3 linked regions of the Homo sapiens genome follow. The protein of the gene in region 1 interacts with the protein of each later gene in a biochemical or structural test. Each region holds a gene or a part of one and is shown in the gene's direction. Other genes may lie near its edges.

The links.
Region 2: the proteins of PBK (region 1) and SIPA1L1 interact in a test that uses a peptide from one of them, tested with the Homo sapiens proteins (one large-scale study listed by IntAct).
Region 3: the proteins of PBK (region 1) and INTU interact in a test that uses a peptide from one of them, tested with the Homo sapiens proteins (one large-scale study listed by IntAct).

Annotation. Positions count from the first base shown.
Region 1 is NC_000008.11:27,824,317-27,827,973, reverse strand, and holds part of PBK (lymphokine-activated killer T-cell-originated protein kinase), read left to right. Parts: intron 1-3,657. UniProt on the Homo sapiens protein: Phosphorylates MAP kinase p38. Seems to be active only in mitosis. May also play a role in the activation of lymphoid cells.
Region 2 is NC_000014.9:71,582,387-71,586,043, forward strand, and holds part of SIPA1L1 (signal-induced proliferation-associated 1-like protein 1), read left to right. Parts: intron 1-3,657.
Region 3 is NC_000004.12:127,723,332-127,726,988, forward strand, and holds the end of INTU (protein inturned), read left to right. Parts: 3' UTR 1-3,406; downstream 3,407-3,657. UniProt on the Homo sapiens protein: Plays a key role in ciliogenesis and embryonic development.

The DNA of each region.
Region 1 (3,657 bases):
ATTCCGGTCCCTAGACCCTTTTGTAACTTTGCCTGTAGCTCTGCCTCTGCTTTTCTCCTAGCTTCCTCCTGATGGGTTATTAAAGGGGAAGTCATTTACTTTTTAATTTTTCCTTGGCTTCCATAAGAAGGGGAAGTGGCAGGGGAAAGGGTTCCTTTGTGGTAATTAAACCAGATTCTTCATGAGAAAACCTCAAAGAGGAAGCCAGTATTGGGTGATGTCAGTGACTGCTGTCTTTTCTGCAGCGTTGCCCTCCTAAGATATGCTCTTCTAAAAGAAGTAAAAGATTTTCATTTCTTATGGCATTGTTATTAAGAAGGGTAAATACATGATTTTAAAGTAGGAATATTGTGTTAAGAAAAATGAAATAATCGAACAAGTATGGTGCCAATATAGCTGTCAACAAAGTGTTTTTTTAAATTACTTTTTTATTATTCATATATTTTTTTGAAACAGAGTCTCACTCTGTTGACCAGGCTGGAGTGCAGTGGCACGACCTCCCAGGTTCAAGCGCTTCTCCTGCCTCAGCCTCCTGAATAGCTGGGATTACAGGCGTGTACCATCACACCCAGCTAATTTTTGTATTTTTAGTAGAGACAGGGTTTTGCCATGTTGGCCAGGCTGGTCTCGAACTCTGGCCTCAAGCGATCTGCCCGCCTTCGCCTCCCAAAATGCTGGGATTACAGGTGTAAGCCACCATGCCCAGCCCAAAATTACTTCTTTTAATCATTACTCTGTACCTAGTTTCATGTTTATTAAGTGGCAAACAACTACATCAATATATATTCCTTAATGCATTCTTGGAATCAGTCTAACTAGTCCAACCCTCCGTATCTTAGCTTCATCTAGGTTTACATTGTTTCCAGATAGAAATGCTTTCTTTAATAAGAGGCTAATTAAGAATAATTTAGTAATTATATACAATGGGTATTCCTGAAGCATTTTTGCAGTTTAAACATTTTTTTTGTATGTTTGTATGGTATTGTTTTCTAATTTGTTTTTTAGTGTTAACTCCTATTTTGAAAGAAAAAAATTCTCACAGGTTTATGGCTAGTTTCATTTTTTTCCCCCTTTTTAAAAAAAGTTTTTAAATGTAAAGTGTTTTTAACAAAGTTACACTGTATGTGGTTTAGTCAAAAAGCTTCAAATAGCTGATCTTTTTTTTTTTTTTTTTTTTTGAGACGGAGTCTCGCTCTGTCGCCCAGGCTGGAGTGCAGTGGCGCGATCTCGGCTCACTGCAAGCTCCGCCTCCCTGGTTCACGCCATTCTCCTGCCTCAGCCTCCCGAGTAGCTGGGACTACAGGCGCCCGCCACCACGCCCGGCTAATTTTTTGTATTTTTAGTAGAGACGGGGTTTCACCGTGTTAGCCAGGATGGTCTCGATCTCCTGACCTCGTGATCCGCCCGCCTCGGCCTCCCAAAGTGCTGGGCAAATAGCTGATCTTGAAGAACAGCAGTGCCTGCCTGACCCTACACTCCTCCTGATTCAGCCCTGTCAACCTGGGATTTCTTTTATCCATAACCTGCAAATTTCCTATGCTTCTCTGCTGAATTATATCCTGTGTTTTTAGGTATCTTGTGTCTTATTATTTCTTGATTTACATCCCGTTTTCATTTAGGACATCTGGTAGCTCCCCATGAATCGGTGCACAGAAGATATATTTTTTTGAGAATTTGCATTTCCAAAAATGTTTTCATTTTACTCATACTTGAATGGCCCTTTTTGGTTTTCTGGGTTACAATTCTCATTTGGAAACAATTTCCCTCCAGAATTTTGAGAATATCAGTCACTGACATTGTTTTTTTTCTAGCTTACACTGTTGCTGTTGAGAATTATGAAGCCTTTTTGACTGCTAATTCTTCATATGTAATCCGTTTTATGTTATCTGTCCCCCCCACTGTCCTGGATCCTGGTATGATCTTCTGTATGTCGGTAGCATTCTGAAATTTCACAATGACATGAGTGGATGTGGGGATCTTGGAATCTGAATAGTTCCTGTTCTTAAATTTCTGAGACATTATTTTAAAAATTACTTTGTTGATGATTTTCACCTCTTTTTCTCTGTTCTCCATCTGGAATCCAATTATTTGAATGTTGAACTTACTGATTTCTCATCTACCTCTTTTTTGCTTGGTTTTCTTATTCGCTATCTTTTTTCTGAGATTTCCCCAGCTTTATCTTTCAACAATTCTATTGAGTTTTTATCTTGTTTTTAATTAATTATCTTTTTAAAAATAGCATCTTTAGTCTCTTGGAGTGCTAGAAATGTTCGGTATCTAGGTGTTGATAACACAGGTATATGCACATGTAAAAACTCATTGAGCATTTAGTATGCATATGGTGATTAATTATTAACCTGCTTCTGTATTACAGGTTCTCAACTGACAGTAAACCTCAGGCTAAAGACTTGTTTTATACCTTCCAAAGCTAGTCTACCATCTTTAGAAGCTGGGGAAGGGGGGTGGGCAGCTGCCAGTTGGTACAGAATTAAGGAGGGTATCTACGAGTCCACCTGTTTTTTACCATTATTATTTAGAGACAGGGTCTCATTTTGTTGCCCAGGCTGGAGTGCAATGGTGCCATCATAACTCACTGCAGCCTCAAACTCCTTGGTTTGAGCAATCCTCCTGCCTCAGCCTCCCAAGTAGCTGGGACTACAGGCGTGGGCCACCACATGTGACTTTTAAAAGTTTTTTGTAGAGAAGGGGTCTCACTATATTGCCCAGGCTGGTCTCAAACTCCTGGTCTCAAGTCATCCTCCTGACTTGGCCTCCCAAAGTGTTGTGATTATAGTTGTGTGCTAACCCTTCCAGGCCTACGTGCTTTTTAAATAACTTGCAAGCAGTTCATTGGGGCTAAGTCAGTTACTTTCTTCTGCTTTCCAGCTTCTGAAATTTTGTTGCTGTTGTCTCTTCTGCTGTTATTTCCATTCTTGCTGGCTTGTATGTCTAAAAAATATCCATTTGCTATTATGTTAGTGGGCTTGGAAAGGATAAAAACAATGTGTATGTTTAAGCTACAATTTTAACCCAGAAGTCTATATTTTTTTTGTTAAATCAAGTTTGCATTTCTTGGTTAAATCCAACATAGTTTTGATGTAGTATTTTTAAATAAACTGATGGATTCAGTTTGCTAATATTAAAGTTTATTTCAATTTTTGCATCTGATATAAGTGAAGTTGGCTTGTGGTTTTCCTTTTTCTACTGTCCCTTTTGATTTTTTAAAATTAAAGTTATATGAGACTCATAGTACCTTTTCTGTTCCCTGGGGAAACAGTTTGTATAAGATTGAATGGTAAATTCTTTGAAAGCTTAGTAAACTCACCTGTAAAATCATCTGCACTTTGTATTTCTAGTAGGAACATTTTAAACTGGTGATTAAATTTCTTCATTCATCAGTTTTCTTAGATTTTTCTAAGTCTTTGACCATTTTGTCTTAAATGATTGCATAAAGATTTTATTTACTTACATATTTTTTCTCTTGTATCTGTAGTTTTGTTTCCATTTTTATTTGTGATATTGTCTTTATTTTTTCTTGTGTAATCTCATCAGAAATTTGCCTTTTTTCTATTAGTCTTTTTAATGAACCAGCTTTTTGCATGGTTGAGTATTCAGATTTCATAAATCTATTCTTATTCGATAGATTAGAATATGTTA
Region 2 (3,657 bases), on another chromosome or scaffold:
TCTTTATCATTCTTCTGCCCTCAAGCTTTCTGCCAAACTTTTGTGTTCTTTCCTTCACCTTCAGCTATACAAACTATATTCAAGCTTAACAAAACCTTAGAAGCGTAACTTTCTTCACTGAACTTTTTTAGCTACGAGGGTGAGTGGGAGGGAAATGTGATTTTCCTTTTTGATCCTTCCTGTGTCCAAACAGGCACATTTTAAGTTGCTTTCTTATCTCTAAATTCAAATACAGCTTTATCATGTTACATGTTTTGTATCTATAACTTTTCTATTCACTTTGTTAATTTTACCAAAAGTTTTTTTGACTCGACTTTGTTTCCATCAGTGTTGTCTCTTTCAGAGAGTGAACATTAGGAGAGCAGGAACTAGATTTATCAACTGTTTTTCTCAACTCTTCCTGCTTTTTGTTGAAGGGAGAATACAGAAATGAAAGGAGGTAGAAATTCCATTCTAAAAAGTTTTACGCTGATTCATAAATCTTAAATTATCCATGACATTGCACTAAGATGTGTTTCAGGCTAACTTGAAAGAGTGAGCCATCCCTTCTGTCTGAGATGCAACTTTTATGTAATGTGAGTGGAATTCAGGAAAGCCAAGAAGGGATGTAAAGAAAATAGTTTGCCTTATTTGATTATCTTAGCTCATCTAATATTCAAGTACTGTGAAGTTATATTTCTGTTTTTAAATAGTGTTTTATTACATTCTGAAGTAAGAATATTTACAGGCATTCTAAGTCTGTGTTTACAAGTTCAAAAACTATTTCTATTTTTTTGTTGTTTGTTTAAGAGCCTGGGTATTACCATGTTACCTAGGCTGGTCTCAAATTCTTGGGCTCAAGCCATCTGCCTGCCTTGGCCTTCTAAAGTGCTGGGATTACAGGCACAAGGCACTGTGCTGGGCCTGGAAATTTTCATAAATACTTCTGAAGTGTATATCTCTGAATTATTGGGGCATTTGAATAGTTATTCATCAGCACAGTTCCTTCTACTGCCCTGAAACATTGAGAGCTGGCGTTGTATTTTAGGCTGTACCAGTTAAAGAATCTGAGAAGATCTCATTTTGGAATGTGGAAGTATTTTATGAGGAACGCTACATCTTTCTGGTGACCCTACCATATTGCACTGTAATTCTTTCACAACAGGAACTGTAGTGTTCCCCCAACCCCACCCCCTTCCCACATCTTCTTCTTGTAACCTTTAAACTGCTCTTTATGCCCTTGGCACGATGTTGTTTCTTTCATTCTATTCCTTGAATTAGGAATAGAATGTGCTCCCTTCCTTACCACTTAATCATTTCTTGAAAAAAAATTTTTTTCATTATTCTGCTTGTTGGTTATTTCATTGTAAAATAGGTAAATAAAGAAGATGTCAAATGAGCACCTACCTCTATTTTATCTGAAGTTTAGTGGAGAAGATCATGACCAGAGATTTGGAGGTAACAGCATAGAGATGATATTTAAAGCTGCAGGCACCTACAGTATCAACAGACAGAGTACTGGTTGCCATGCAGATTTCCAGCCAGTAACTTAATTATTCTGCCTTTGTTCAGCTGCACAGACAAATGTGAGCCAGCCCAATCAACACTCTGCTTTCCACAGTGATATTATTACTCCAGTGGACCCATGCTTCTGTCTCATCCTAATACACTCAGTGCTCACATGCATCCTGATAGAAATACCTTTTATACCCCTTTCCAGAAATATGAAAAATGTCAAGAGAGATAAACCATAGACACCACCTTTTCAATGGACCCCAACTAAAGACTGAGTAGTGGGCAAAAAGAGGCAAGAGAAAATGAAGAAGCACATGGTTATCACAGAGGTCCAGAAAAGAGAGGTTCAGGATGGAGGATGGGTTCAGGAGTACAGATGCTTCACAGAGCCAGAATGACAAGGGATTTTTGGCAATCAAGAGATCCCATAAGAGGTTCTGCTTTCAGCATTCTCAGGGACTTGATATTCTAAATGGCTGACCTACTGTGGTACAATTAGTCCCAGCAGGAGATTGTAAGCTCTGTTATTAAAGAGCTTACAATCAAAATGGAAAGTGTATAGGAAGGAGGCATGACCCATGCATCCCCCGTCATCTTCTTACTTGTCTGTGTCTCCCTGCTACACCTGGAGCTTTCCTTGAAGGAGGGACTGGTGGATGTATGGTCCATGCTCTGAAGACACTACAGAAACACAGGGGGTGATTTGGATGAGAGGAGGAAGCATTTCTTCTGGAAGAATGGTGGGTTAGGTTGTGAGAGATCTTGAGTGATGAAAAGACTTTCAACTAGTTGAATTGAACTCATTGAACTAAACTGTGGGCCCTCTAGATGGAATTAGTATTCTAGCTACCTGGATCTACCATAGACTTAGATAGTATCTAGAGCTGTAAAATTAAACATGTAATAAGGAAAATTTTTATATAGCCTGCTCTTTCAACAGATGGAGGTGACATGCTGTGAATTCGTATTGCTCTTCTGTTTAATTCTATTGCTTTTTACCATATTGGTACTTAGGCAGGTTTGCTGATATTTAAGAGAGTTGCTGATCATTGTCAACATAGGTTTGCTGTTTCAGTCAACCCTAAGGAATAGATGTGAAGGTATTATTGATCTGTCATCATATGATACACATCGATGGACAGCATTATTTTTGACTGGTAGTTTAATAAGTGCAAAGCATGTATATTTCCATATATGCTAGTCAGTGCCCAAAGTTTATATTGTACCCCAAAGGGGTTTGATGCTATAAATAAGAATGAGAAAAGGGAGGGAGGGAGGGAGGGAGATGGAAAATGAGAGGGAGAAAAAAAAAACATAGAAAAGGAAGGTCCTTATGACTGAAAAAAAATCTGTTATTTAACATAATTGCCCATCTCGAACCTCATCAGTTTTTACAAGCCATTAAAACGTGGCTTCTCTCTCTCCCATGTGCTTATTTATATTTTGAAATGAAAAGAAAACATTGAGTCGTTGTTATATAATGTAATGGGAGTCTTGAAATTTCTTTTGAATTGGTAAGAAATTTTTATATTTAAAAATAAGATTTTATAAACTCATTAAAAATATTGGAAGTATATGAGATGGTTTGGAAGAGAAATACTGATGGTGGAGACTGAGCATTTCCAAGTCAGTTTTATTTCTTGTATTTTACTGCCAGCTTTTAGTTTCCTCCTCTAATGGAAATAACTTCACATATCCTGGGAAAGACAGCTGTGCAGTAAAGTATTTTCTAAGGCACATGAAATGTGGCAAGAGTTTTTATCATGGTGGGATTGGTGTGTTGTCCTTTTAGAGAATGAATGTTTGGGGAATGAAAGATGATTTATTTGGATTTCTGTGAGGTTGTGAGAAATGTTGAAAGCATCTAATTTTTATAAAATCTACTTTAGAAGTATTATTTATGCTATGTAGAGTATTCATTGAAATAATCAGCTTTTGGGGAGATGTTGAACAGGTGTTTGCATTTTGGTTCAGTTGTTCAATTTTCCTTCCATTTTATGAGAATCACTTCTTGAACCTTTGCTATGGCCATATATGCTGTCCTTTGATATCCTCGGAAGCAACAGTTAGCATGTTTTGTCACTTGAAGGGTTATCATTGAAAGAGGAACATGTAAAGTTCTGGAATGTAAAGGGAATAATAGCAGTCTGACAGTAGAAGTAT
Region 3 (3,657 bases), on another chromosome or scaffold:
GGGAGCTGCAGAGCAGAGCTGCCTCTCTTTGACCATCTGGGCTCTCTGTTCTACTTTTTTTTTTTTTTTTTTTGCCTCTTGCATGTTGGTCACCTCCTAAATTAGTAATGTCCAAGTACTTATTCCTTATCAGATACTTTTCGTTAATTTAACTATCCTAGTACATACCTCACTGTGGGGAAAGGGGGAAAGATGAAAATTAAACTTACTTTTTATTTATTTGATTCTCTTTAAGTTTCAGGTAAGCTCAATTTTGACTAGGATATATATATGTGTGTGTGTGTATATATATGTATTTTTTAAACTATTTGTCAACTTTATTTTTTTTTGTTTGTTTTTGTTAAAATACATTCAGCGGCTGGGCTTAGTGGCTCACGCCTGTAATCTCAACACTTTGGGAGGCTGAGGCAGGTGGATCACTTGAGTCCAGGAGTTCAAGACCAGCCTGAGCAACATAGCAAAAACTCCATCTCTACAAAAACACCAAAATTAGCCGGGTGTGGTAGCACTCTCTTTTAACAGTCCCAGATACCTGGGAGGCTGAGGTGGGAAGATCACCTGAGCTCAGTCGGTTGAGGCTGCAGTGAGCTATGATCATGCCACTGCACTCTAGCCTGGGCAACACAGTGAGACCCTGTCTCAAAAAAAAAAATCACATTCAAGTATATTTCACATGCATTTTATATAATTCATGAATTTCAGGAAAGCTGCATGTAAATCTTTTTTTAAAGCTAAATCATGTTAAAGACACTGAAAAAGTTAACTAAAATTCTATGGTGACTTCTTTTATAAAATACTAATTTTTGGCCGGGCACGGTGGTGGCTCACGCCTGTAATCCCAGCACTTTGGGAGGCCGAGGCAGGTGGATCATGAGGTCAGGAATTCGAGACCAGCCTGACCAACATGGTGAAACCCCATCTCTACTAAAAATACAAAAATTAGCTGGGCGTGGTGGTGTGCACCTGTAATCCTAGCTACCTAGGAGGCTGAGGCAGGAGAATCGCTTGAACCCAGGAAGCAGAGGTTGCAGTGAGCCAAGATCACACCACCGCACTTCTGCCTGTGGAACAGAATGAGACTCCGTCTCAAAAAAAAAAAAAAAAATACTAACTTTTATCTTAGAAATATAGATCATTATGCATTGGGTTTTTTCAAAGGGGGAACACTTTAGTGAACAATAGTTTACTTGACCTTTAGTTGGAAAAGAAAACTAATGGTGGAGAATTTTCTTTGGCTGGGAGAATTTGGTAGATTGAGAGAAAGGAAGAACATCAATACTGCATTTTTACTTGACATTTACCCTGTAGATCCTCCTAGAGGTTCGATGCCCCCAAGACATTCCAACACTGAGCTGTTTCTTCTCCAGGTCTTAAGCTTTGAATACAAGCTATACCAGCACATCTAAAATCGGTCTCTACATTTTTCCATCTTAAATATGAGCTGTCCAGCTTAGTCAAAACTAACTGCAAAACACTGGGTGTACCATTTGAGTCATTTGGTCTTAAAAGAAACACTATTATCACTGTGTCACAGTTTGAGAGATTTTCACTTAAGCATTTAAGTTGCAAACCACTACATATTTGTCCCATTAGTGACTAGTGGGCCTTAATTTTGGCATTCAAATTAGGGTAAAAAACCTTGGTTCTTGAAATGCTACAGAAAATAGCTTGAGGCCAGGCACAGTTGCTCACACCTGTAACTCCAGCACTTTGGAAGGCTGAGGCAGGCAGATCACTTGAGGTCAGGCGTTTGAGACCAGGCTGGTCAACATGGTGAAACCCTGTCTCTACTAAAAATACTAAAAAAAAAAAAAAAAAAAAAAAAATTAGCCGGGCATGGTGGCAGGTGCCTGAAGTCCCAGCTACTTGGGAGGCTGAGGCAGGAGAATCACTTGAACCCAGGAAGCAGAGGCTGCAGTGAGCCTAGCTCGTGCCACTGCCACTCCAGCCTGGGCAACAGAACGAGGCTCTGTTTAAAAAACAAAAAAGCTTGAAATACCTTCCCCTTAAGATCACAATATTGTCATATGCTACCATTTGACTCACAACTGCTGTCTTAGGACTGCTTATTTACATATATATGTATTAAGACACTTTGGTTAAAACAATTTATTAAATGTCTTAAATTTCTGGATATGTCCCTGAAAATACCATGAACTACTTCTAATACTGATAATTATGAATAAACGTAGCTGTTGATCACCTCAGGTTTTCATACAAACTGAACTAAGGTAGGGTTTTATCATAGGGGACTTTTTGTTTCATTTAATGAAATTTTGATGTGTTGAACTGCTTTCCTGGTGTCAGAGAAACATGAGACCATCGCTCAATAATGGAAATAAAAAGGCAGAGCAGACTACTGATCTTAATAAAAGGAAAATTATTTGCTGTATCGTAGATGTGCACTGTAATTTCCATGTTAAAGAGGCACTGCATTTTTAAGAAATAAAATCACACATCTTATTTTTTCATTTCTAAATGGATATTGAACTAAGCTCTGAAGGCAAACTTAGCTGCCTATTTTTCCAAATATGTTCAGAATCACATCTGAAACATCAAACTGATTATCAGACAATAAAGTGCCTGTTACTTTATTAAATAAAGGGGGACAGGATGACAGTGCAGATATCCTAGAAATATGCTTTAGAAGACATAGAAACGTTGTTAAATTGGATTTTATTAGTATGCAAATGTTCCCTTCCACCAACAACTATTAATGTGAAAAACTATATATAGCTAGCATTTTTTAAAATATCAAATACTGTCTCATTATCATATGTTTAGCCCCCCCAAAATTACATTTTAGACTCTTACTTTCTCTCCCTCTCCCCTTTCTTTAGCTCTTGTTTGTGTCTTGCCAAAGAAGTGTACCTAGTAAGGGAATGTTTCTTATTTGTGCCAAGGGACTATTGATGATGCTGTATAATGGCAAGATAGCATTTTGTAATACCTGCTTTTTTATATTTCTAATACAAATGGGCAAAGCTGTGAAACCAATTTACTAGGTTTTTCTGCTTTGGACATAATTGTATGTGTTAATTCTCTCTAAACAGTGCCTGGCACATATTACATGCTATAAAAGTGTTAGCTACTACTGCTACCATTTATTATTATCATTATTAAATATCCATTGGTTGAAAAACCAAGTAGTCAGCTAAATCATACCTGCTACTGTACAAAATGTAGGGGAAAAGCTGAGAAAAATCATTTATCAATAAACAGTTTTCAGAACAAGAATTTATACTTTGGATATTTTTAAATTGTTAAATGTTATTGAAACTTTATGCACCAAAACTGTATGAAATAATTTAATTTTGCAGTTGTGTTTCTATATTCTATGTAATTAAAGCTACTTTTATACTATATTGATAGTTTTAAATAAAACTGGTTTGGAGGTTTGTTTGCAGTTGTATTGCCTTTTTCATGCATTCATCCAACATGTATTTATTGCATTTCTACCCTGTGCCAAGCGCTGATGTGGAGGCAGAGGCTATAGCAATGAATAAAACAGCTAAAAATTCCTGCCCTCATGGAGTTTATGTTCCAATGGGAGAGGCATACCACAGACAAGATAAATAAGTAAAATATGTAAATGCTGAGAGAAAAAATCGTAAAGCAAGAGAAGGGGATGTAAGATGTGGCAGACAGGGTGACCAA